Homo sapiens: one gene and its partners. The protein of the gene in region 7 interacts with the protein of the main gene of each other region in a pairwise test. Each region holds a gene or a part of one and is shown on either strand. Other genes may lie near its edges. The genes, in order: ZHX1, FYTTD1, U2AF2, RNF4, PIAS2, SDCBP and DDX39B.

Region 1 (3,500 bases), on a different chromosome or scaffold from region 7:
TAAATTTTTTGAACTTAAAATCCTTTTAAATAATCCTACGTAGTTTCAAAAGTAAGTTATAGTTCTGTTTTTAAAACTGATACTATCTTTAGAATAAGAGCCAATGTTTCTATACTATTATTGATAAATTTTATTGTATCCTTGTTGCTCTGATATATTTGTAGTCATCAATAACCAGATTTGCATGACTAAAGTTGCTGACTTAGATTATTAATCAGAATATACATTTGAGTTTACATTTTGGAGATCTGCATTTTATACAGGATATTCTTAAAGTAAATATTAATATGTAACTTTGTATGTAGTTGCCAGGTTTTGATCTTAAAAGATACTTAATCTTGGCATTTTATACAATCAGTTTCCAACTTAAGAGGTAAGACTGTATACCTTTGGTCTAAACAAATGTGATGATATACTTTGTAAAATAAGTATATATGAGCAGTTTAAGAATTATGTTTATTCAAGGGAGCCAGTTGAATACATTTTTTTTTTTTTTTTTTTGAGACGGGGTCTCATTCTGTGGCCCAGGCTGGAGTGCAGTGGCATGATCATGGCTCACTGCACCCTCAAACTCCTGTGCTCAAGCGATCCTTTCTCCTCAGCCTCTTGAGTAGCTAGGACTACAGTCATGTGTCACCCACGCCCGGCTAATTTTTAATTTTTTTTTTTGTAGAGATAGGGTCTTACTGTGTTGCCCTAGCTGGTCTCAAACTCCTGGCCTCAAGCAATCCTTCTGCCTTGGCCTCCCAACATGCTGGGATTACAGGTGTGAGCCACTGCACTCAGCCAAATAAATCATTTTTAATGCAAGATTTTAATTTTCAGTTCTTAGTTTTAGATTTTAAAAAATATTATCAGAATTTATCTTAACAAAATTAAAATATCGAAGTCATAGCCATATCATATATTATTGTAAATAAAATAACTCTTTCATTAAATTTTGGTGATTTCCTATTTCTCAAGATTTCTAACTTCCTTTTTCCCCTTCTTAAAAGTCTTTTCCTTTTTTGTTTTTTAGTGAGAAATGAAAGAAGATAGGAGGTTCTGATATTTCTAAGCACTAAACTAATAATTATATTTTTCTTCTAAGTTTATTCTCTTTTACCATCAATATTCTTAAAAAGAAGTTTGTTAAAATTTTGCTAGACATGGGCTATACTTGGGAGTGGGGAAGATCATGAGAACAATTTCTCCTCGTTACTATGATAAAATTACTTATATCAGATGTTTGCTAGTTCTATGAAATACCCCTTAAATATGTCATACAGTAATGATTTATTTTGAAGCTAAGGTCAGAAAAAGTTTGTGGGGGGAGAGGTTAAATTTGATTGATTAGTATCTGCCTTTTGAAGCCAACTTGTTCCAGCATGATTTAATATGCTCAGAGGTATGAAATGGCAAATAAATTTTGTTGGTTGGTTGTTACCCAGATTCTTAAAGTATTTTATCACTTGTCAACAGTTAGCAAATTTTAAAGAAAGATTTCTTTGCTAACATTCATTGTGTTCTAAGTACCAAGGAATATTCCAGAAACTTTACACGTGTTACCTATTCCAATCCTCACAACAACCCTATTAAGTAAATAGTATCCTATTAATATTACCAGTCCCATTTATAGATGATGGGGCTGAGGCACAGATAGGCTAAGCCATTTTTCTAAAGTCACACAGCTAGTAAGTGGCATGCTGTATTTGAACCCAGTCTGTTCCAAATTCCAAGCTCTCAGTCTTTTTTTGTAATCCATCTACTACCAGAACAGCTTGTTCTGTTTTATTATATAATGTACATAGCTGAGATGAGCTCTTTAATTTTTGGAATTCACTCATACTAAATTAAGAAAAATACTTTGAATTAGATAGAAATGTTCTAAAGTAATCCCAGTATCAGGAACTTAAATAACATCAGGCAACTAGGATTTTCATTCAAAAGCACTGATGAGCTCATTTTTGCTCCTCTGGTATCCTGGTGCCTTTACATGTCTTGGCAGCTCTTCTCAAGAGACTCATTCGGTAAAATATCTTGCAATTACTGTGTGATTTTAAGAATGGATTGAAGTAGGTTACCAGATTCCTAAAGTATTAATAATTCATTTTGGAAAATAACCTTCCCTCTTTGGCAGCTGTTTCCTATCTTCTCTTCTAGTCCACATCCTGTAGATTGATGGCTAACGAGTGGCGGAACAAGGAGATACCAGGAAATGAAACTGTAGAGTCCCAGGCTACAGAGATAATAAGATGCTCCACTGGGCCTACCAGGAAAATGCTCTTTTGCTTTTCATGAAAATAGTGTACTTATTCAGCCTAAGTTTTAACCTAACCTAGAGGTATTTTACTAAAGGACTGGTGTATTTACATTATTTCTTGATGTGAGAAGTTTCTTCATAAACTTGTATGTAATAGTAGCAGGAATAAAAAAATAAGGTTAATTGGGAAAATACTCTTCCTTAATATTTATTCATTATAGTTTACAGAGAATAGTGCTTAAAGAATACAACAAAAGGCCGGTTAGGGATCATGCCTGTAATCCCAGCACTTTGGGAGGCCAAGGCGGGCAGATCACTTGAGCTCAGGAGATAGAGACCATCCTGGCCAACATGGTGAAACCCTGTCTCTACTAAAAATACAAAAATTAGTTGGGTGTGGTGGCGTGTGCCTGTAATCCCAGCTACTCGGGAGGCTGAGGCAGGAGAATCGCTTGAACCAGGGAGTCGGAGATTGCAGTGATTCGATATTGCGCCACTGCACTCCAGCTGGGCGACACAGTGAGACTCCATCTCAAAAAAAAAAGAATACAACCAAAATGCTTTAACCCTTCAAAAGTGTTATTTATGACTGTTCTAGTAAGAAAAGCAATTGTAGCTTTATTAAACTTTTCTGATGGGTTTAACTGATCTAGATTATATACAACAACATATTTGGACAGTAATTGAATTTTCAGAGAATTATTTTCTGTTTATTTGATTGCATGATGTTAATACTTCACAGTGCACTGATTGTAAAGCCATTTGGTAGTAGCTTTCAGGCAAAAACGACATGGCTAAACACCAGTCATTTTGTTAGATAACCCCATGTTTGTAGATCAAGTACTACTAGTTTGTTTAACTTGTTTTGGCTTGTGTTGTCAGCATTAATAATCCTCTCCATTCTGATTAACATAATAAATTAGGATACAAATATCACTAGGTTTATGTACTAACACATAAACATATACAACTACTCCCATTTCTTAGTTTAACTAAATTGTCTTCATAACCTTTGTATACTTATTTATTTATTTATTTATTTAGAGTCAGAGTTTCGCTCTTGTTGCCCAGACTGGGGTGCAATGGCGCAATCTCGGCTCACTGCAACCTCTGCCTCCCCGGTTCAAGCGATTCTCCTGCCTCAGCTTCCCGAGTAGCTGGGATTACAGGCATGCGCCACCACGCCCAGCTAATTTTGTATTTTTAGTAGAGACGGGGTTTCTCCTTGTTGGTCAGACTGGTCTCAAACTCCCAACCT
Region 2 (4,170 bases), on a different chromosome or scaffold from region 7:
AAATAACAAAGCCATATATACATACACATATATATAGTGTATGTATAAAAATAACCAAGCCATAGACATACATACACATATATGTAGTGTATGTAGAAAAATAAAGCCATATATACATACACACATACAGTGTATGTATAAAAATAAAGGCATATATACAGACATACTACATATAGTGTATGTATAAAAATAAAAGCATACATACAGACATACACACATATATATAGTGTATGTGGAAAAATACAGTGCTGTGTACCAGGTCCTGTTCTAAGCAGTTCACATATGCCTTCTGACTCATTTAATGTTTTCAGCAACCCTATGTGGTAAACACTACTTACTGTCACCTTTCTACAGATGAGGCACTGGGAAATCATCTGCCCACGGTTACATGGTTACAAAGTGGCAGAGGCAGGACCTGAAAGGAGACAGTGTGGATCTGGATTCCATGCTGTCAATCACTAGGAGTACAACCCTCACAGACTTATCATGAGGATAAACTGAGTTAATATATAAAATGCTGGCCGGGTGCGGCGGCTCACGCCTGTAGGGGAGGCCAAGGCAGACAGATCACCTGAGGTCAGGAGTTCGAGACCAGCCTGGCCAACATGGTGAAACCCTGTCTCTACTAAAAATATGAAAATTAGCCGGCCACCAGCGCTGGCGTGTGCCTGTAATCACAGCTACTCGGGAGGCTGAGGCAGGAGAACTGCTGGAACCCGGGAGGCGGAGGTTGCAGCGACCCGAGATCACACCACTGCACTCCAACCTGGGCGACAGAGCCAGACTCCGTCTCAAATAATTAATTAATTAATTAATTTAATTTAATGCTTAGTCCAGGACCTGAACTGAGACAATGTGGTTCTGGGTTCCGTGCTCTCCATCGCTAGAATCCTCACAGAGTTATGACGAGGATAAACTGAGTTAACATATAAAATGCTTAGTACAGGACCTGGTAGGTAGTAAGCACTCAATAAATATTCATTATTACATTATTTGTTGGCCTTACCTCAAAAGGTTTCTCTCTCTTTTTTGCGGGGGGGGAGAGCGGGGGGAGACAGGGTCTCGCTCTGCCGCCCAGGCTGGAGTGCAGTGGCGCAATCGGCTCACTGCAACATCCGCCCGCGGGTTCCAGCTATTCTCATGTCTTAGCTGGGATTACAGGCGCGCGGCCACCACGCCCGGCTAATTTTAGTATTTTTAGTAGACATGGGATTTCACCTTGCTGCCCGGGCTGGTCTCGAACTCCTGGGCTCAAGCCATCTGCCTGCCTCCGCCTCCGCCTTCAAAGGGCTGGGATTGCAGGCGTGAGCCACCGCGCCCAGCCCCAGCTTTCTCATTTCTTACAAGCTCACTACTAACCAGCAGCAAGGCAAGACTTGAGGCCAAACCTATTATTTCTGATCATTTGCTTAGTTCACATACTGGATTCTGACTGTGGCAATCGTAGAAATCAATAGTTCCCATCTCACCTGGAACCAAAAACGTTCCAGATAAACCACAACAAAAGACACACAAGACAAATGGGAAGAAATGAAAACCGAAAGAAGGTTTCCAAGACAGTTATCACTCTAAAGACCGTCCTGGGAAAGGGTACGCCTCGGAATCCACTAGTCAGGTACTTTTCAAATATCCGAAAAACTGCCAGCCAAACACCTGGCAGAGCTGACTTACACCCAACGCCATCACTTGAATCCCGACAAAAATATTCGTACTTTTAGCCCACCTAAGCTAACCACAGCGGCTGGTGCCTCGGTAGTGTCAGGGCTGGATTTTAATGGAATCACCAACCTCCCGGTTTTTATATAATCGGCAAGAAACCACGCCACCCTCTCAGATGCGCTCAAGAACCCCACGCTTTACCTGGCTTCTCAGCGAGCCACAGCAATCATCTCTCCTTCAAAGATGTTTGCTTTCTCCCCCATTAGCTAGCTCTGAGGCCTGGAGAGGGAGACTGTGCTTTTCTAGGCAGCGCTCAATACACAACCACATCCCACAGGCGGCCGAGCGCTGCTTCCTTTCTGACAGACGCTCCGGGGCCGCGGCCGGAGGTGGCCCCGAGAGTCGCGCCCGGCAGCCATGGCCGGCGCCGGCCTGGAACGCCCGGCGACCAGGGAAAGCTCCGGAAGCGCTGGTTTAACCGACCGCAGCCCCGGCCGGGCTCTCCAAGACCTTTCTTCAGAGAGAACGGCTCGGTCGGACCATTCCCCTCGCTCCCCGATAACGCCCACCGCGAACGCGCTCCGGGGAAACCGGCAGATCTTTCCTCACAAAGAGCCGGCGAGCGGCGAGCCGTAGCCCCTCCGGGGAGAAGAGACGCCCCCCGCGACCCTGCGAACCTTCGGGCCCGCAGCGCCCCTGCCCCCGCCTCCACAGCCCCTCCTCCGACTGCCGCGGCCGAGGGGACGCCCGGGTCCCTCGCGGTCCAGCCGGGCACCTGGCGTCGAGCCTGCGCTCCCGGCTGTCCTCCGGGCCTCCGCTCGGGTCCGCCCACCAGCGAGAAAACTCCGCCGGCAACTGCTGCCGACCGCCCCTGCCCCCACAAACCGCGCCGCCGGCTTCCACCCGCGCCCTCCCCCGCACTCCAACTCGGTCCAACTCGGCCCCTCACCCAAAGACATATCTATTTTGTCGAGGTTTTCATTGCTGCGGGCCTTCGGCGGCGGCGAAGAAGTCGCCGTGGCTCCCACCAACCGGGTACCAAACCGGTTCATGGCTGGAGACGTCGCGCCGAGAGCGGGCGCGGACAAGGCCGGAGTCGCAGGCCTGCCACCTCCCACTCGCGCACGCAGCCCGCCGCACCGAGGGAGCGCGCACGCGCCGGCGCCGTCCTCGGTCTCCACCCGCGGCTGCGGGCGGGGCGGGGCCACCGACACTCGCGGGCGACCAGAGCGGCCCCGCGCCGTGACTCGCTCCTAGCGGCCCTCGCAGGATCGGACGAGGCATTGCAGCCGCTGTGCTAGGCGCTCGCGAGGACCGCCGTTGTGAGCAGTTCGACTTTCCGCCCAAACTGGGGGATGCTAGACCGCGGGCACCTCTGAATCTTATGCCTTCAGTGATATAATCCTCCGTGTCCTTCGAGTCCCTCCTGCTGCAGACAGGTCCCCTATACTTCGGTACACACGAGCCTTTCGCGCCCACCGCAACGCAGCCTCGGGAGGCAGGACAGACCCCTGCGAGTGTAGATTGCAGCTGCATCCCAGCTCCCCCCTCCCTGGCACGCTCCTCCACCTACAGCTGCGCTGAGCTGCCGCATCTGAACGCAAAGCAAACGCTGCAGTGACGGTTCCTGCGTCACCTTAACTCCAAAGTAAATGCTAACGTTTCCCGTGTCTGTACCTTCTCTCAATCGGCACTCTCAAAACATCTGGCACGGTGTTCACTACCCTAATAAGACCTCAGCTTCCCTCGGGAGGGGTAAGTACCTCTGTTGATGTAGCTGCATTTTCTTCTAATTCATTTGCATTGGGAATGGATAGAAGGGTTCGTTTACTTTTTAATCATCCCTACGGGAAAACAGTTTAATATTTGATGAATTCCTGCATGATAACTTTTTTCCGTTTACAACATACGGTATTTACCTCTCTTCTTACCTCATTCTCCTTCCCTGAAGTAACTGCGTTTATGTGGAAGCGTTTAGGTTATATCACCCTCATACAGCTTAAAACTATCTCGGATATTTACATCTAAGGACAATACCAGATGCATTCTGTCCACCTAGAAATCTCTGTCGCCTTTCTCCTCTCCAATTCATAAAATGCAAAAATTCCTTTAGCATGGAAACCAGCCATCTCAAAACCACAGTAGCCTTTGCTTAATTTAGTCATGTCACAATGTCATGTGGCTTCCAACTTCAACACCAATGACACATTTACTATTTTTTGCTTGGGGATCCCATGTTTTAAAATATTTCTTATGCATGTCACACTTAAAAATTAAAGCCAGCTGTTCCAGCTCCCCTTTCCAGGCCTGAATTTAAAGCAAAGCTTGCAGTGACAATTTTGCGGTCACCTTAACAATAAAAGTAAATGTGAACGTTTCCTGTATATGTAGCATGGATAAAACCAGGAGTCTTCACACAGATTATGTTTCCAGCTGAACTCAAAGAACCATGACTTTTTTGTAAGCCTAGTAGTCTTATCTTGGGGAAATGTATGATTTTTGTTAGGCTTT
Region 3 (3,500 bases), on a different chromosome or scaffold from region 7:
ATGATGGAAAAGCACTGGGCTGAGCGCAGTGGCTCATGCCTGTAATCCCAACACTCTGGGAGACTGAGGTGAGCGGATCACTTGAGGTCAGGCGTCGGAGACCAACCTGACCAACATGGTGAAACCCACCCTCTACTAAAAATACAAAAATTAGCCAGACATGGTGGCAGGTGCCTGTAATCCCAGCTGCTCGGGAGGCTGAAGCAGGAGAATTGCTTGAACCCTAGAGGCGGAGGATGCAGTAAGCCGAGATCGTGCCACTGCATTCCAGCCTGGGTGACAGAGCGAGACTGTCTCAAAACAACAACAACAACAAAAAGAAAAGCACTGGAGGCCAGTGAGGGACCTAGCCCAAGTCCTGCCTGACACAGATGTGCCTCCGTCTGGGGCTCCACATCGCCTGCCCTGAAGAGCTGACTCAGTTCCTAAAGGGCTCCTCGAACAGTGAGTACCCGCCAGCAGAACCCCACCTCCTCCATGTCCCAGGCCTGAGACACAGCCGCACCCTGACAGGGCATCAGACAAGCCCTCCCTCAAATCCCATTCATCAGCTACAAGGGTCAGCCAACTATAGCCTGTGGGCTGACAGGGCCCATCACCTGGTTTTGCACATCCTGCAAGCTTTCTAAAGGGAGACCATTCTGTGGCCTGTGAGAAGCACAGGAAAGCCCAACCTCAGCAGCCACGCGTGTCGAGGTGTGCCGGCACACAGCCAGGCCCACGCACGCAGACACCGTCCGGCTGCTTTCACACACAGTGACATGGTCGCCAACCCCTGGTCTGCTATGTTACCTACCAATTACAGATGATGTTCAACACAGCTATGGGGAATGGCCCAGAACACAAGATTCAAGGCAAACACTAGGAGACAAAAACAAGTGAATACCCAGGTGCCAGACCCCACAGCAGCAGCTTTGCTGCCAACCGTCGACACACAGCAGCCCCGACGGGCACAGACTGAGCCCTCCAAGGTCCCACAGCCGCAACGCAGGCACGAGGTCCAGGCCACAAGCCCCTCGCTTCCCCAGCACCTTTGGTCTGATCCTGGCTCTGCCACGTACAAGCTGTGTGTCCTCAGCAGGTGACAGCTCATTCTCCCGGCCCTAGGCACCTTCTCTACCAGCAGGAGAGCACCCCACTCACAGAGACTTAGGGGAAGCAGGGAAAAGGCACCTATCTTCCACAGTACTTACACAACTTCCTAAGCCACTCCAGCTGGGCTGAAGGGATGGACAGGCCATGGGAACAGGACTGGGGGAGAAAGGGGCCCTTAATGGATCCCCCACTCACCAGGCACATAGACGGAGGGGTTCTCTGACATGCCAGGAAGCGGCTGGTAGTCGTGAGGCCTGCGGATCTTTAGTGACTGGCCCTGGAAGATGATGCCATCAAAGGCCATAGCCTGGGTAGTCTCGTCCACTGAGCGGAACTGAATGAAAGAGAAAGGAGTGGTGAGGGATGGGGGTCAGGGACTAGTACAGCCCCTAGTGTTCCAGGATTGGGATTTCCTCTTTCCTTTCACTCATGTGAACAAATACAACATGCCAGGCCCCAGGCTGGGCACTGGGAGTACAACAGACACGCATGTCCCTGCTGCCAGGAGCTCACACTCGACCATTAAAAACACCAGGCACCCAACACAAACACAGAGGCAAACACACAATTGCAGGCTGTGATGACACGGAAGAGGGACAAAGTGCTGAAAAGGGATGTTACGGGAAAGGTTAGTTGAACGGGGAGATGACAGTACTGGAGTCTTTCTGGTGAGGGGGACATTTCAGCCCATCTCCGGAGCAATGCAACTGCAAGTGGACTGCAGTGAGGCAAAGACAGAGTGAGAGGGACAGAGTGAGAGGGAGTGCTCAGACAGTGAGAGGGAGTGCTCAGAAATCTCTGCAGTAAGCTAACACTGCCCACACCTTCACAATACTTCATGAGAGTTATCAGTCCACCAAGAGTCGAAAATCAAAAACCAAGGCCTTTTCCCGACAGTTGAGAAACACAGACACAGAAGACTAGTTAGGAACATCAGTTAGCTGGGGTAACAGAAGACTAGTTAGGAACATCAGTTAGCTGGTGTAAAGAACTCTAGCCAAGCAGGCAGGAGCATGGTAGGTTCTGGGAAGGTCAGTGTGGCCAGAGTGCAGAGAGGACTGGGCCGGAATGGTCTGGAAAAGGCCAAAGAGGTCTACAGAGGCCAAACAGGCCTCTCAGGTCACACAGAAAGCAAATGGAAGGCAGAAAGTAGGATCAGATCTGTAATGCTATAACAGGGCTCACTTCAGCGACCGGGTGGAGAAGAGGCTGCAGAGGGCCTGGTGGAAACAGCACAAGGCAGCTCCACACAACATCAGCCTAAGGGCTGGGCCCTCACATCACACACGTTTCCTGGACCTCACTCACTCCCCCAGCTCACCTCCAAAAAGGCAAAATTCTTGTCCTGGTTAATCTGCACAGCCAACACTGGGTTGCCAGGGGCCTGGGTCAGCCCCCCCAGGCGCATCTGGGCGTTGAAGAAATCCATCATGGCCTCCTGCAGAGGGAATAGGAGACAAGGGGGGGGGCGGGGGAAGGGAGGTGGAGAGAGGAGGGGAAGGGTGAGAGAGGGAGACACAGAGGGGTTTGGGGGTAAGGGGAGAGGGATGAGGGGAGGGAGGAGGGGGGGAAGGAACAGTGGAATATGGGTGGGGGTGTAGAAGTCAATAGTAAGAACAGAAGCAAGAGAGAAAATGGGGAGGAAGCAGTAGCAAGAGACGGCCAAGGGCAGGCGATGGACAGGCGTTGGGGGACAGCCACAGGGGCCCCAAAAAATCAGGGGAAAGGAGAAGATTGTTCAAGAAAAGGCAGAGGGCATGATGACAACACAAAATGAAGAAAAACACGAAACACAAGAGATGAAGAGACAGAGCACACAGGAAGGGCCACCCAGTGGAGACAGACAGAAAAGTGGCAGGAAAGTAGAAAGGAAGTGGCAGGCAGGGGCAGAGACGAGCAAAGGACAGAAAGGGAGAGCAGGACAGAGACGAGCGAGGAGGAGGAAGTCAAGAGTGCAGGGGCAGGAGAGGAGGAGTGTAGGGAGGAGGGGCAGGGACGGGAGGGGAGGAGAAAAGAGTGATGTGGAGGAATCTGGCCCTGGAGTCCGGGGGCTGGTTTATCAAATGTAGCAAAGTGCAGGTTGAGAAAGTCAGAATGGACCTTACTTGCCTTCGACGATGGTAGCAAACTTTTTGTTGCTACGAGGGATCTCAGCCCCACAATATTTCACTTTAAAGAGAAATGGAAACAACTCTTTGATCTCGGGATTCTCAGGGGGTGCCACAGGAAGGGGTTGGGGAGAGGGGAGAGGGAAAAGGAGTGGTGGGGAAGGGGGAGGTCAGGGGCGATCAAAAATAAAAGAACAGCGACCATGGGAGGGACGTGGGGGAGAGGATAGGGGACAGGCGGCAGAGAACGAGAGGCGTGTCAGAAAAAAACTGAGGGGCAGCGTGCGTCTGTGTGTG
Region 4 (3,500 bases), on a different chromosome or scaffold from region 7:
GCCTGCCACCACGCCCAGCTAACTTTTGTATTTTCAGTAGTGATGAGGCTTCACCATGTTGGCCAGGCTGACCTTGAACTCCTCACCTCATGATTCGCCCACCTCAGCCTCCGAAAGTGCTGGGATTACAGGTGTGAGCCACCATGCCCAGCCGACCTGCTGATAGTTTGATAAAACAGAAGTTTTACTTTCTGGAATTTCTACTCATTTTATGTTTTGGATGGTTTCTCTCTCCGTAAGCATTCAGTATTCTTGAATCTCAAGTTTTGAAAGGAGCCCTAACTTCAAGTCTACTCGCTGGCTTCTTAATGAAGTGAACCATTTCTATTGCCCATTTAGTTCTTCCTGAAACCCTGACATTCTGGTGTTCATGTGACTCTTCTTTCCCCCTTGCTACTCAGAGAAAGCGTCGTGGTGGAGCAATAAATTCTAGACAAGCTCAGAAGCGAACTCGGGAAGCAACCTCCACCCCCGAGATCTCCTTGGAAGCAGAACCCATAGAACTCGTGGAAACTGGTAAGATTGCCAGGGACACTACAACTGTGGGGTGTTAAAGTGGAGAGAGAACACTGTACCAGGGTGAGCTAGTAGAAGGTGCTTTCAGTGTCTTTAGAAGGCCTATGCAGTCTCACACTCACCATGTACAACTCAAAGCTTCACAGATTCTGAAATAGCTTCTCAACTGGGCTAACTGTTCAACTCTGGTAATGTGCAGCAGTGGGGTAGGATCCATTTAAAAAAAAATCTAGCGCAAATGAGATAGCCCACCTTTTCTATCTGAAACTGCATCCCCAATTGCTGGACCTTGTAAAGTACTTCGCTTTCCTCTTCTGTTTTTCATTAGGACATGAAATCACCCAAGAAGGCAAACTTGTCCACAGAGCTCCCTGTGTTGGAGCTTGGTATAGGCAGAGGCCAGATTGGATTTCCCCTTCTGCCTGCTCAAGAAGTGGTTGATGGCTGGCCTAAGTCCCTTTGCTCTGCATATATTGTTTTTATAACTAGGATACCTGCAAACTGGCATTTTATTTTTACTTATTTATTTTTGAGATAGAGTCTTGCTCTGTCGCCCAAGCTAGAGTGTAGTGGTGCAGTCTCGGCTCACTGCAAGCTCCACATCCTGGGTTCACGCCATTCTCCTGCCTCAGCCTCCCAAGTAGCTGGGACTATAGGCACCCGCCACCACACCCGGCTAATTTTTTGTATTTTTAATAGAGACAGGGTTTCACCATGTTAGCCAGGATGGTCTCGATCTCCTGACCTTGTGATCCACCCGTCTCGGCCTCCCAAAGTGCTGGTATTACAGGCGTGAGCCACTGCACCCGGCCATGCAAACTCGCGTTTTAAACAGAAGAAACTTAGTGCAAGATAAATTTCATGGGCCCCCCAGGAGAAATGAAGTTCTCTATATGGTCTCTGAGTTTCACTTCTACAAATGAGTTCTTGAAAGCCTTGACTTGAGGCTAGGATCCTGGCTCTAGACCAAAAAGGAACGAACTGCTTTCCGTCATGGCACTTGTCATCCTCTAGGCAGTCTTACCCCTGTGTGTACTTAGGGCTGCCCATTAGAGCACTGTTTTGTTTTTGTTTCTGTTTGAGGCAGAGTTTCGTTCTGTCAGCCAGGTTGGAGTGCAATCGCGTGATCTCGGCTCACTGCAACCTCTGCCTCCCAGGTTTAAGCAAGTCTCCTGCCTCAGCTTCCCAAGTAGCTGGGATCATAGGCGCCCACCACCACACCCGGCTAAATTTTTTTTGTATTTTTAGTAGAGACGGGGTTTCACCATGTCAGTCAGGCTGATCTCGAACTCCTGACCTCAGATTATCCACCTGCCTTGGCCTCCCAAAGTGCTGGGATTACAGGCCTGAGCCACCCGCCTGGCCTAGAGCACTGTTTTTGTAAGAGCCCAGAATTGTGTTCACCAGAAAGAGAATGGTTCAATAAATTGTTGTATATCAGTATATGGACTGTTGGACAGCCCTTCTTTTTAATAAAGAATGCAATAATTTTATATAAATTATATTGTATATGTAAGATTATCACGGTTTTTATTCTTGTGAAACTTTATGATACAAGAAAATAAAACAGGCCAGCCAGATTGCTTGAGCCCAGGAGTACCAGACCAGCCTGGACAACATAGTGAGACCCTGTCTCTATAAATAAAAAAATTAGCCAAGTGTGGGAGGCTGAGGTAGGAGGATCACTTGAGCCTGGAACATTGAGGCTGCAGTGAGCCGTGATCGTGCCACTGCACTCTAGCCTGGGCAACAGCAAGACCCCACCTAAAAAATAAATAAAAGAAGTTACGTTGGGTTGGGCGCCATGGCTGGCTCCTATAATCCCAGCACTTTGGGAGGCCGAGGCGTGCAGATCACCTGAGGTCAGGAGTTCAAGACCAGCCTGGCCAACATGGCGAAACCCCATCTCTACTAAAAATGCAAAAATTAGACGGGCGTGGTGGCGGGCGCCTGTAATCCCAGCTACTTGGGAGGTTGATGCAGGAGAATCACTTGCACCTGGGAGGCAGAGGTTGCAGTGAGCCGAGATCGTGCCACTGCACTCCTGCCTGGACGACAGAGCGAGACTCTGTCTCAAAAAAAAAAAGTTAAATGCATTACAAGACACTTTCCCCAAATATTAGACCAATACTGTTTCTTAAAAAACTTCATTTAGTGTTTTGTTGTTGTTGTTGTTTGTTTGTTTTTGAGATGGAGTTTTGCTCTTGTTGCCCAGGCTGGGGTGCAGTGGCGTGATCTTTGCATCCCGGGGTTCAAGCAATTCTCCTGCCTCAGCCTCCCGAGTAGCTGGGATTACAGGCATGTGCCACCACACCTCGCTAATTTTGTATTTTTAGTAGAAACGGAGTTTCTCCATGTTGGTCAGGCTGGTCTCGAACTCTCAACCTCAGGTGATCCGCCCACCTCAGCCTCCCAAAGTGCTGGGATTACAGGTGTGAACCACTGTGCCTGGCCCATTCCGTGCTTTTTAATATTAATATTAATAGTAATCAGAAATAAAAATGGTTGTGCGTCATTTTTTACTTTATATAAATGGAAGTTGTACGTTAACTGTTTGGTCCATGTCCTTCTCACCTTTATCCTGTGCACATGTAGACATCACAGTATACCCTAAGGGCTGAAAGGCAAGCTTCACAACAGATGCAACCCATTTTGTATGTTGAGGTTCTAGCTATCAGTATATATCACTGTTATTCTCCATCCAACTAGGGAGACAAACTTGAGAGATAAATGGAAATTAAAAGTTTGTCCTTGGCCGGGCACGGTGGCTCACGCCTGTAATCCCAACACTTTGGAAGACTGAAGTGGGTGGATCACAAGGTCAGGAGTTCAAGACCAGCCTGGCCAAGATGGTGAAACCCCATCTCTACTAAAAATACAAACAAAATTAGCCAGGCATGCTGCCAGGCGCCTGTAATCCCAACTACTCGGGAGGCTGAGACAGAGAATTGCTTGAACCCAGGAGGCGGAGGTTGCAGTGAGCC
Region 5 (3,500 bases), on a different chromosome or scaffold from region 7:
TTGAAAATATTCTACTACTGAATCATGGTGATGATTGCACAGCTCTATGTATTTACTAAAATCACTGAATTGTGCCATTATATACTTAAGATGGGTACATTTTATGCTATGTAAATTATAACTCAGTAAAGCCATTAGAAAACCAAGTGGACCAAGAGGCCAAAAAGATGACACTAGCAAACCCAAGTTTGAAAGAATGTGTTCGTAGACAGCCAGGAGAACTCTCCTGTTATCTCCTTTTATGGTTCAAAACCTCTCTGAAAAAGCAACTATTGTTAAATACCCAAACCTGATTTTTAATGCAGGTCAGTAATGCCTTCTGCCAGATAACTTACAGAGAATCCACGCTAAAATTCAGGTAGAATGCCATCCTACCCACCTATATTTTGCCCTGGAGAGGGTGAAAAGGGAAAGGAATCAATTTTTATTGGGAAATTACCACATGCCTGACACCGAGGCTTTCTTTCATCTCATTAAAACCTGAAAATGATCCTGTAATATAGGCGTTATTTAGCTCCATTTAACAGAACACAAAAAAGAGGCTCAATCAAATTAAGTATTTCATCTAAGATCACAGAACAAGTAAGCGATGGTGTGCCAAAATTGGAATCCATACTTGTCAGATTCCCAGTTCCACACTCCATTACACCAGACTTTCTCATCTGGTCTGAGATGCCAAATTTCCTTACAAACAGGTTCAAGAAAATAACAAAAAGTCTCAGGTAGGAAATAAATACCTCACACGCTCACTTTCCAAAGATGTAAATATTTTCTCCATCAAAATTTGCTTCCTATAAACAATGTGCTTACTCGAAAATATTTCAACTCAACAAAGGCAAATTAAAATAGCCTTCTACAGTTATGCCATTTCCCAAAGAGACATTTATAAATCTATCCAAGAGCAATTAGTTGCAAGGGTAATGAACAATAGTGAACTATAAATTAACAAACCCTTTGGTTGGGCTGCTTTGTGTTTCTGACATAAAGATGCATTTCCTTTTGGCAGGAGGGTCTTCCTCTTCGTCAGAAGAGCTTTCTATTGTAAGATCAATAACATCTACTTTCTTCTTGCTTGCCTCACTGGCTACAGTCACTGAACAAGGCTTACTGAGGACGCTTGAACCTGCATGTAAAGAAACAAAAGGAAAAAAAAATTAAAGGTATAACACAAATAAACTCTAGTGGTAGAGTCTAGTATATTCAGTATAGTATGTTCCTGACAACATATAGCCAGTGAAGCCACATACTCCAACCCATGGACAAATACCAACTCCCTAACTCCAGACCTCTGTCTGTAAAATGGTTGTTCACCTAGGGAGACAGGTGAGCACTATTCCTTGACAGATGGTTAGAAGTCTCATTCAGACAGAATGTTCTTAGTTATGCCTCCAATACCACTGAAGGATTTGTGCAGCTCCTACTGCTCATCCTGTCTCTGCAGGTCAGCAGTCGTTTTACAGAAAGACACGCAGAGTTAGGGAACTGGTCTCAGGTCATGGGACAAGAATGGGTGAGTTCAACAGCTATGTATTCTCGCACACATGTGGCACAGTTAGCTCAGAACCAGATATTTCCATTCTAGCAATTATGCTTATATCAAAGAAAGTACAGACTTTTCACCATAAGCCAGAACTTGATAAAAACTTTCATCTTGATAAGTTGAAAAAAACCCAAACCTCTCAATTAAGTTACTAAGACATTTAAACTTTTCTTATGAATTATCTGCTAATCACGTAGGTTCTTTCTACCCACAAAGACAGTCTCACATACCATATTTGTTAACTCACATTTTCACAGAAAAGTATGTTATTATCTGTAATGTATTTAGTTAAAAATGAATGACAGTTGATAATGGAAAAGCAACAGAAACTTATCAACTAAATCACTCCCCATTTTTCTGAAAGATGAGAGAAACCTTGGTCACTGCACTCAGGTTTAGTGTCAATCGCAGAGGAATAATTAATAATGGCATAAATCCTTTATTTTTTCCCCTTTCTTCTTACTCCATTCATTACATTGTTTGTTAGAACTTCAAATGTAATCAGAACAAAACTGAAATGCAGTGAGTAGACTGTTAGATAAAAAGAAACTCTAAGTTCACGTGTGGGTTTCAATGAGACTGTTAGATAAAAAGAAACTCTAAGTTCACCTGTGCGTTTCAATTACTCCAAATGCCCTCAGTTTCCCTACTTAGTGTGGATGGATGCAGGCAGTTGATGGATGAGTATACATTCTAGGTAATCAAGGCAATGTTAAAATTCTTCTCCACAAAGAAATGGAAGGTAACAATTTGTTTACTTTCTGAGCAACTAACCTGTGACCATCCCCAAACCACCAAGGCCATTAACCAATGATGCAGCCTCTCTAACCTCACCTCCACCTAGGGTTCCACCTACAGATACTCTAAGAACAATTCTGAAAAACTGTCCATATAAATTCATTTGTGACTTTTTGTTTTGTAACAAACATCATATTTTAAAATGATTTTAGATGAATGTTTCCTTTATTCTACACAGGAAAAATATACTATGAAATAGCTGATAAGATGGTATAAACTTTAGCACATTCCTTCAGGAAAGAATAAAAATCATTTGGGGGAAAACTATATATCATCAAAAGACTGAGTCAACAAGCTGAATTCCAAACGTATAGTTCTAGGGGCCAAGATTAATGATAATGTTGCACGAGTCTCACTGCTTTACTCTCTGCTGCTATTCTACACATACTTTCTATTTTTGTACACGGTTGGCTGGATACTTTCATAGCTTCTTTCTTCGGTCTCATTGGACACCAAGAACCATCTTCTTGGAATTTGATCTCATCTACATCAGAACAGTCATTGAGAATTTCCATAAAAAGCCTAAAAAACAATTAAGAAGTACATACATGTGATCAACAGCTTTGCCTAAAGGTGAAATAAGAAAGTAATACACATTACCTTGAAAACATAAGTAATGTTAGCTGACCCCCTTTTCTTTTGGTATTGCAATACTTTATACTTTACAACAATTATTACACTCCCTTTGTCCTATGTTTTAAATCTGTAACAGGCAACATAATAGTTAAGTAACTTACTGAGCATCACCTGTGTAACTCAATGAGTATAAATGGCTAGAGAGAAGTAGATACCTGGAGCCTCCTAGCTGAGGCTGGCAGTAAGAACAACCTCTAACACAGCACAAAAAACAAACATCAGCAGATAAAGGTTACTATATAGTAAAATAATTTATAAACTTTAACTTCGAGAAAAAAGGATAATGGGGTAGGGGAAGGAGGGAAGAAAAGGGAAATAAAAGAAGTCTCAATAAATTTAAAATAAGTGTATTTGAATTAAGTTCAAATTAAGTCCGTACCAGAAAAACCTGAAAACTTGGAAACTAAACAAAAGAAACATGAGTCAAAGATAAAAATAAGATTTTAAACTGAATGAAAATAAAAATGTAATAAAATTTGTGGACTGTATTATTTAAACACTGAAGTAGTATTTAAAGGAAAATTTA
Region 6 (3,049 bases), on a different chromosome or scaffold from region 7:
GCTTAGGATTGTAGAAGTAGATGCACTTATATTTTACCAGGCTTATTCTTCTTTTATACTTACCTATTTATATTTTGTTCAACTTCTGATTGAGATTTTACATAAGTAAAAATATCCATGTGAGTGTAGTTATTGGTTAACAGTATTTGAGTTTTCTGTATTTATTTCATTGTGTGTTCTTTATAAGCCTGTGCATGTGGATTTAATATGCCCATCTTTTTAGTCTAACAAATAAACTTTAATCTTACTTGATTATACACAATTTAGCAAATGGGTAAAGGAATGCTTCAGCTCAAAAGGTAGAATTATGACCTTAAACTGTCATTTATTAAGCTGTAAAAGAACTCATCAAACTTTCTAACATGTGACTCGCTTTTCCCCTAAATATGATTATGTACTGATAATTTGGTATTCTATCAGACTCAGACGCTTGCATTTATTAAAGTTGTCCTACTGTATTTTCCTTAGTTTTGTATTCCAAGTTGAAGGGGGGGATTGTGGTTGGTCAGGTGGGTCATGATTTGGTATAGAAATTGCCATTGAAATCTCACTTTTTTGCCTTATTCTTTGGAGTTGCTGTCTTGATAAATTTTTCAGTTTCTTTTGAGGTGATAACTTAATATACTCATATAGTTTTTCCTTTTTTTCTTTTTCTTTCTTTTTTGTCACTGGGGTAGAGTTTTCAACATAAACAGTTGTTTCCTAATTTTCCAGCGTTTAAAACCGTATCATAGTAGTGGTAAATGACAAAAATTATTTTCTTATTATCTAGGGTATATTTGTTCAGCTAGTCCAGGCTAATTCTCCAGCCTCATTGGTTGGTCTGAGATTTGGGGACCAAGTACTTCAGATCAATGGTGAAAACTGTGCAGGATGGAGCTCTGATAAAGCGCACAAGGTGCTCAAACAGGCTTTTGGAGAGAAGATTACCATGACCATTCGTGACAGGTAAGCTGTTACTAAACAGCTCAAATGAAAATTCAATACTAGTTTTCCATTTTTTTGGGCTTTCAGAGTTTGTGAGTATATTATTTTGTTGCAGAAAATGATCAAATGTTATTGATGAGCCTTATAGTCTTGCAGTTGTGTGGTGCAGATTTTTCTTACATTGTTTTTAAAGCATTCTGATACGATACCTTATTTCAGAGTTTATAGGACAAATCTCTCTAGAAAATAGAAAACGTATGTTGGAGAAGTAACTGAGTTGCAGGGCATCTCTGGGCTCACTTTCCAACTTACTGCTTAGATACATCCAGCCTAGGGTGTTCACACACAGTGGTCCCTCATTGTGAGGGTCAGAGCCCATGCAGACTTCCAAGTAGTATGGGAGTTCTGAAAACCGTATCAAGACTTTTGGGTAGTTATGAAGCAGTAGTTTTCAAGAACATGGAATATTCTATTTAGCAGCTCATTCATTTAGAACTTAAACATTTAGCACATGAAATAGGGGCCTCCATTTATTTTCTTGTCTACTCCATACCCAATTAAGGGTAGACGTATATTGCATTGTTACAGTAAGCTTTGAGTTTTTGTTCCTTCTCAGTGAAACTTCTGTTTTATCTTTGTGTTTCCAGTTTCTCATTCAGTTTAGGTATTTCGTAAATGTTTCAGATGAATGTCCTTTTTACTTTCTATCTAAGCAGAGTTTCAAAGAGTAAGTTGTACTAACAGGAAGAAATGCCTCTTCTGAATTTAATAATGTAAACACAAGTTGATCCTAAAACCCTTATGATAACATGATAACAGAGTTTATAGAGAATCAAGCAAATGTGACTGCTATAACAACTCTAGAGGGACAGCTGGATGCCTTTTAATAATAGCTGCATGCCTCCCTTTCCAAAGGGGCTTGAGGAACTTAAGTCTTACTGCTGCTCTAGTTTTTCTTTTCAAAGATAGCAATGTATAAAATTTTCAAAATCAAGATGTGAGAAATATTTTAAAGGTTTTAAATAAAAGAAATAGTCCTAAAAATGATTTGGCTCTAGAAAATACCAAAAGTTAATAAAAAATAAAAATTATCTTTACCACTGTGATTTAGTTAAAAAGCCTATGTCATTCTTAATGCTGTAAAGTCTAATTATAAAAGAAAAACATATTGATAAAACCATATAAAGCAGTTGTCTTTTATACTTAAAGAAGGAAATGTTGATTAGTAAATCAGTCAAACCATAATGAATAAACTTAAAAAAAACTTTTACACAAAGATGTTCCGTGAATGTATAAAATCAGAGCCATAAGTTGCTCTTATTAGAAACAGTGTTTATTATAAAAGTATCCAATATGGCAACATTTATGCTATATGAAATCCATTAAAATGTTTAGCTTAGAATTAAGTTTTTAATTGAACCAATTATGTTTGTAGGCCCTTTGAACGGACGATTACCATGCATAAGGATAGCACTGGACATGTTGGTTTTATCTTTAAAAATGGAAAAATAACATCCATAGTGAAAGATAGCTCTGCAGCCAGAAATGGTCTTCTCACGGAACATAACATCTGTGAAATCAATGGACAGAATGTCATTGGATTGAAGGTAAGGAACAGACTTTGTGCCATGTTCTGCTGCAGTTTTAGAAAATGTCTGTCTTTTGACTGTATTTAGGTGGCGCTGTTTTCATATTGACTTAGGTGGGAGATGGGGAACGTGGGGCCTGAACTCTTGGTCTGGCCAGTCACCGGAATTATTTGGGCTGTCATCTAGAACTACAGTTCCTATAACAAGTGGGCTGGAATAAATGATCTCAGAAGTACCTCACACTAGAATTCTGTGGAAATATGGGCAACAAAGATTTAGAATATGAATAGTGGCCCAGCATTTCTCAATCCAGGAATATAAGGAAATGAATAATAGTTTTGGTTCATATTAATACTTTATTTTTATAGTTTTTCTCCTCCACAAATTCCTAAATAAGTCTGTCTTAAGGTCAAAAAGTTTTAAGCATGACCTCCTCATTTCATAGAATTTGATTTAGAATACACAGTTAATAAGAGGAGATGGTAATATTGTATATGGGGAAAATTATCTAATATTCAGAAAGGAAAAGTTTT
Region 7 (3,500 bases):
TCTGTCGCAAGCGTGGGGTTCATGATTTAGATCACATAATTGAAGTCATTTATTATCGGCCCAGGTGTGTTTTTGTGACAGTCACTTCCCTAGAGGGGATAATGAAGAGCTACATTTACCATATGTCTCCGTCTACTTCCTGCCTAAGGTGTCTGTACTGGTGATGTGTCACACTCGGGAGTTGGCTTTTCAGATCAGCAAGGAATATGAGCGCTTCTCTAAATACATGCCCAATGTCAAGGTAAGCCAAGGTAAAGAGACCTGAGAGTGAGGGTGTGGCAAGTTGGAGGGATAAGAAACTTGTAGGCCAATAGTCTCTTTAATTTTGGAGAAGCTTTAGTTTGCTGTGGTGTAACAGAGTGTTGAGTTCCTATGTAACAGGAGGATTCGTAATTGGGCTATGGATGATGCTTAACACAAGACCACCCTTTTCTTACTACTTTATACTGACTTTGAATCATATCAGTTTAATAATTTTGGGGTATGTGGCAGAGAAAGCCGGAAACTTTAAAACAGCTCCAGTGGTGTGTGAATATTGAGGATTCTGGCCAAGTGCACAATGGCTTACACCTGTAATCTCAGCAGTTTGGGAGGCCAAGGCGTGTGGATTATTTGAGGTCAGGAGTTTAAGACCAATGTGGCCAACAGGATGAAACCCTCTCTCTACTAAAAATGCAAAAATTAGCCGTGCATGGTGGCACACACCTATAGTCCCACCTGCTTGGGAGGCTGAGGCAGGGGAATCGCTTGAACCCAGGAAGCAGAGGTTGTAGTGAGCTGGGATTGTGCCATTACACTCCAGCCTGGGTGGCAGAGTGAGACTCCCATCTCAAAAAAAAAGAAAAAATCTGATTGAAGTTAAGCATTTTTGGCAAGAATCCTTCATAGGTGATACTGTATCTCCTGTTATGCCACAAATCTGGTCGACTTATGTTAGTTATTTTATTTTATTTTTATTTATTTGTTTTGAGATGGAGTCTCGCTGTGTCCCTCAGGCTGTGAGTGTAGTGGCGCGATCTCAGCTCACTGCAACCTGCGCCTCCCACGTTCAAGCGATTCTCCCGCCTCAACCCCCCGAGTAGCTGGGACTACAGTGTGCCATCATGCCTGGCTAATTTTTGTTTTTTTTTAGTAGTGACAGGGTTTCGCCATGTTGGCCAGGCTGGTCTCGAACTCCTGACCTCAAGTGATCCACCCACCTCGGCCTCCCAAAGTGCTGGGATTACAGGAGTGAGCCACTGCACCTGGCCTCATTAATGATTTTAGATTTACCATAGGATTAGCGTCGTGACAGTCTGATTCCACAGTTGTTCTTTTCCCCCTTGAAACCAGAAAGTAGTTTCTGGTGTTATTTGATACTGTACCAAGGCCCAGATCCCCAAACAACTATTCACCTAATGGTTTTAACATGAAATGATAATATTTAGCCCGAAGCAGTAATTTCATGGGGTTTGTGTGAAAAGAGTTTGAGATTCTGGGTTTATTTAGGAAACCTTAATGTTCCATGTGTTTTTTGTGGTACTTTACACTAATCTGGTGATTTCTTGCTGTCCTTTATTTATTTATTTTTTATTTTTTGAGATGGAGTCTCGCTCTGTCATCCAGGCTGGAGTACAGTGGCTCAATCTCGCCTCACTGCAATCTCCACCTCCCGGGTTCAAGCGATTCTCCTGCCTCAGCCTCCCGGCTAAATTTTGTATTTTTTGTTTTTTAGTAGTAAATTTGTAAATTTTGTATTTTAGTAGAGATGGGGTTTCACCGTGTTGGCCAGGCTGGTCTTGAACTCCTGGCTTCAAGTGATCCACTTTCCTTGACCTCCCAAACTGCTGGGATTACAGGCGTGAGCCACTGGGCCTGGCTTTATTTTATTTTTATTTATTTTATTTCTTTTTGAGATGGAGTATCACTCTTGTTGCCCAGGCTGGAGTACAACGGTGGGATCTTGGCTCACCACAACCTCTGCCTCCCAGGTTCTCGTGCCTCAGCCTCCTGAGTAGCTGGAATTATAGGCGTGTGCCACCACACCTGGCTCCTTTATTTTTTAAATGAAGCCTGGCCTCATAAATGAAGGAAGTTGGTTAGATTAAGTCAGTAGAACTGAATTATTGTCCTGACTGCTCCGACTAGCCATGTAACTTTAGGCAATCACCCTCAGTGTTTGGTGGGGGGGACATAAAATTTTTAAATTAGGTGCCCTCTAAAGTTAGTTTTAGTTTGGAAACATGCTAAAAATTGGTTTAGCTCAAACAGAGTGGGAACCCTGGGGGGATTGGACTCTTTCCTTCCTCTGTTTTGAGACTCTTTGCTTCTGGCTCGGCAGGTTGCTGTTTTTTTTGGTGGTCTGTCTATCAAGAAGGATGAAGAGGTGCTGAAGAAGAACTGCCCGCATATCGTCGTGGGGACTCCAGGCCGTATCCTAGCCCTGGCTCGAAATAAGAGCCTCAACCTCAAACACATTAAACACTTTATTTTGGATGAATGTGATAAGATGCTTGAACAGCTCGGTGAGTGGCAGTGCTGGGGCTTGGCTAATGCTGGGGAGTTGTTCTTTGGAGCCAAATGATGTTTATTTGAAACAGGAGCACCTCAGTGCAAGGACGACTCTTATCTATCACCCATGACTGATGGCTCTGGGTTCCCTGGTTGGTCTTTATTATGCTTTTAAGCACAGTAAAGGGTGTCATCTATCATCTTTCTATGATTTTTGTTTTTAACCTTTGAGAATAGGGGACTTTGATAATTTTAGGCATAAGTCATCACCACCACCACCGTTTTCATTATAGATTCATATACTGGGAGTCATAGCGGAGATTCTAAACTGAAAGAGAAGACAGTACCCTTCTGGCATCTCCAGCACAGCATTTACAGTCAGAATTTATAGCTGAATAAGTGTCTAGACTCAGGTCTGGGATTAATGTAGAGAGTGTTTGTAGCAGTTTGTGTGATGTGGTATTCTAGTGTGCCAGGTGGGGTTAATGGAAGATTTTTCTGTAAGAATTGAATCTTGGTGAATGAGAGTGGGGTTGGACATAGGCCCCATAAGTCATTACAAATGATCTTTGGCAATTCTATATGGTGAGCTATAAAGGTGGGCTCCAGGTAGGGATGTCATATTTGCCTGACTTGATAGAAAAGTAATCCAGAGAGTCATAGATGGACTCTGATATCTGGAATATAATATGTGCTTGATATTTGTAGTCTGCTGAAGGCTGGCTGGGGCTTGGGCAGGAAAGGGTTGGGAGAAGGTCCCATAAAGCATGTTTTGAAGGCCTTGAGAGCCTCTGCACTGGGCTTTATCCCCATTTCATAGTTGGGAACTTTGGGGTTTTACCTTATTTCTTGCTTGGTTAAAACAAACAGCTGGAATCTGATCCCACTTCTTGATTCCAAGTCCATTGCTCTTTCCATTGTGTTGTTACTATTTCCAGCAATCTTCACCTCACTGGGAAGTCTACCTCTAATCTTTGTTTATCATACCTGCTTATTTTCTCCTACAATTT

What was found.
Region 1: the proteins of DDX39B (region 7) and ZHX1 interact in a two-hybrid assay, tested with the Homo sapiens proteins (one large-scale study listed by IntAct).
Region 2: the proteins of DDX39B (region 7) and FYTTD1 interact in binary tests that used the Homo sapiens proteins (3 or more experiments, as listed by UniProt).
Region 3: the proteins of DDX39B (region 7) and U2AF2 interact in binary tests that used the Homo sapiens proteins (3 or more experiments, as listed by UniProt).
Region 4: the proteins of DDX39B (region 7) and RNF4 interact in binary tests that used the Homo sapiens proteins (3 or more experiments, as listed by UniProt).
Region 5: the proteins of DDX39B (region 7) and PIAS2 interact in a two-hybrid assay, tested with the Homo sapiens proteins (one large-scale study listed by IntAct).
Region 6: the proteins of DDX39B (region 7) and SDCBP interact in binary tests that used the Homo sapiens proteins (3 or more experiments, as listed by UniProt).

The regions. Positions count from the first base shown.
Region 1 is NC_000008.11:123,267,787-123,271,286, reverse strand, and holds part of ZHX1 (zinc fingers and homeoboxes protein 1), read left to right. Parts: intron 1-3,500. UniProt on the Homo sapiens protein: Acts as a transcriptional repressor. Increases DNMT3B-mediated repressive transcriptional activity when DNMT3B is tethered to DNA. May link molecule between DNMT3B and other co-repressor proteins.
Region 2 is NC_000003.12:197,748,513-197,752,682, reverse strand, and holds the start of FYTTD1 (UAP56-interacting factor), read right to left. Parts: upstream 2,801-4,170; 5' UTR 2,712-2,800; coding exon 2,609-2,711; intron 2,437-2,608; exon of another isoform or gene 1,861-2,436; intron 1-1,860. UniProt on the Homo sapiens protein: Required for mRNA export from the nucleus to the cytoplasm. Acts as an adapter that uses the DDX39B/UAP56-NFX1 pathway to ensure efficient mRNA export and delivering to the nuclear pore.
Region 3 is NC_000019.10:55,661,535-55,665,034, reverse strand, and holds part of U2AF2 (splicing factor U2AF 65 kDa subunit), read right to left. Parts: intron 3,265-3,500; exon of another isoform or gene 3,205-3,264; intron 2,534-3,204; coding exon 2,417-2,533; intron 1,430-2,416; coding exon 1,291-1,429; intron 1-1,290. UniProt on the Homo sapiens protein: Plays a role in pre-mRNA splicing and 3'-end processing. By recruiting PRPF19 and the PRP19C/Prp19 complex/NTC/Nineteen complex to the RNA polymerase II C-terminal domain (CTD), and thereby pre-mRNA, may couple transcription to splicing.
Region 4 is NC_000004.12:2,496,606-2,500,105, forward strand, and holds part of RNF4 (E3 ubiquitin-protein ligase RNF4), read left to right. Parts: intron 1-401; coding exon 402-516; intron 517-3,500. UniProt on the Homo sapiens protein: E3 ubiquitin-protein ligase which binds polysumoylated chains covalently attached to proteins and mediates 'Lys-6'-, 'Lys-11'-, 'Lys-48'- and 'Lys-63'-linked polyubiquitination of those substrates and their subsequent targeting to the proteasome for degradation.
Region 5 is NC_000018.10:46,827,008-46,830,507, forward strand, and holds part of PIAS2 (E3 SUMO-protein ligase PIAS2), read right to left. Parts: intron 2,861-3,500; coding exon 2,727-2,860; intron 1,124-2,726; coding exon 952-1,123; coding exon of another isoform or gene 936-951; exon of another isoform or gene 1-935. UniProt on the Homo sapiens protein: Functions as an E3-type small ubiquitin-like modifier (SUMO) ligase, stabilizing the interaction between UBE2I and the substrate, and as a SUMO-tethering factor.
Region 6 is NC_000008.11:58,577,261-58,580,309, forward strand, and holds part of SDCBP (syntenin-1), read left to right. Parts: intron 1-772; coding exon 773-948; intron 949-2,362; coding exon 2,363-2,534; intron 2,535-3,049. UniProt on the Homo sapiens protein: Multifunctional adapter protein involved in diverse array of functions including trafficking of transmembrane proteins, neuro and immunomodulation, exosome biogenesis, and tumorigenesis.
Region 7 is NC_000006.12:31,535,504-31,539,003, reverse strand, and holds part of DDX39B (spliceosome RNA helicase DDX39B), read left to right. Parts: intron 1-148; coding exon 149-241; intron 242-2,320; coding exon 2,321-2,504; intron 2,505-2,554; exon of another isoform or gene 2,555-2,630; intron 2,631-3,500. UniProt on the Homo sapiens protein: Involved in nuclear export of spliced and unspliced mRNA. Component of the TREX complex which is thought to couple mRNA transcription, processing and nuclear export, and specifically associates with spliced mRNA and not with unspliced pre-mRNA.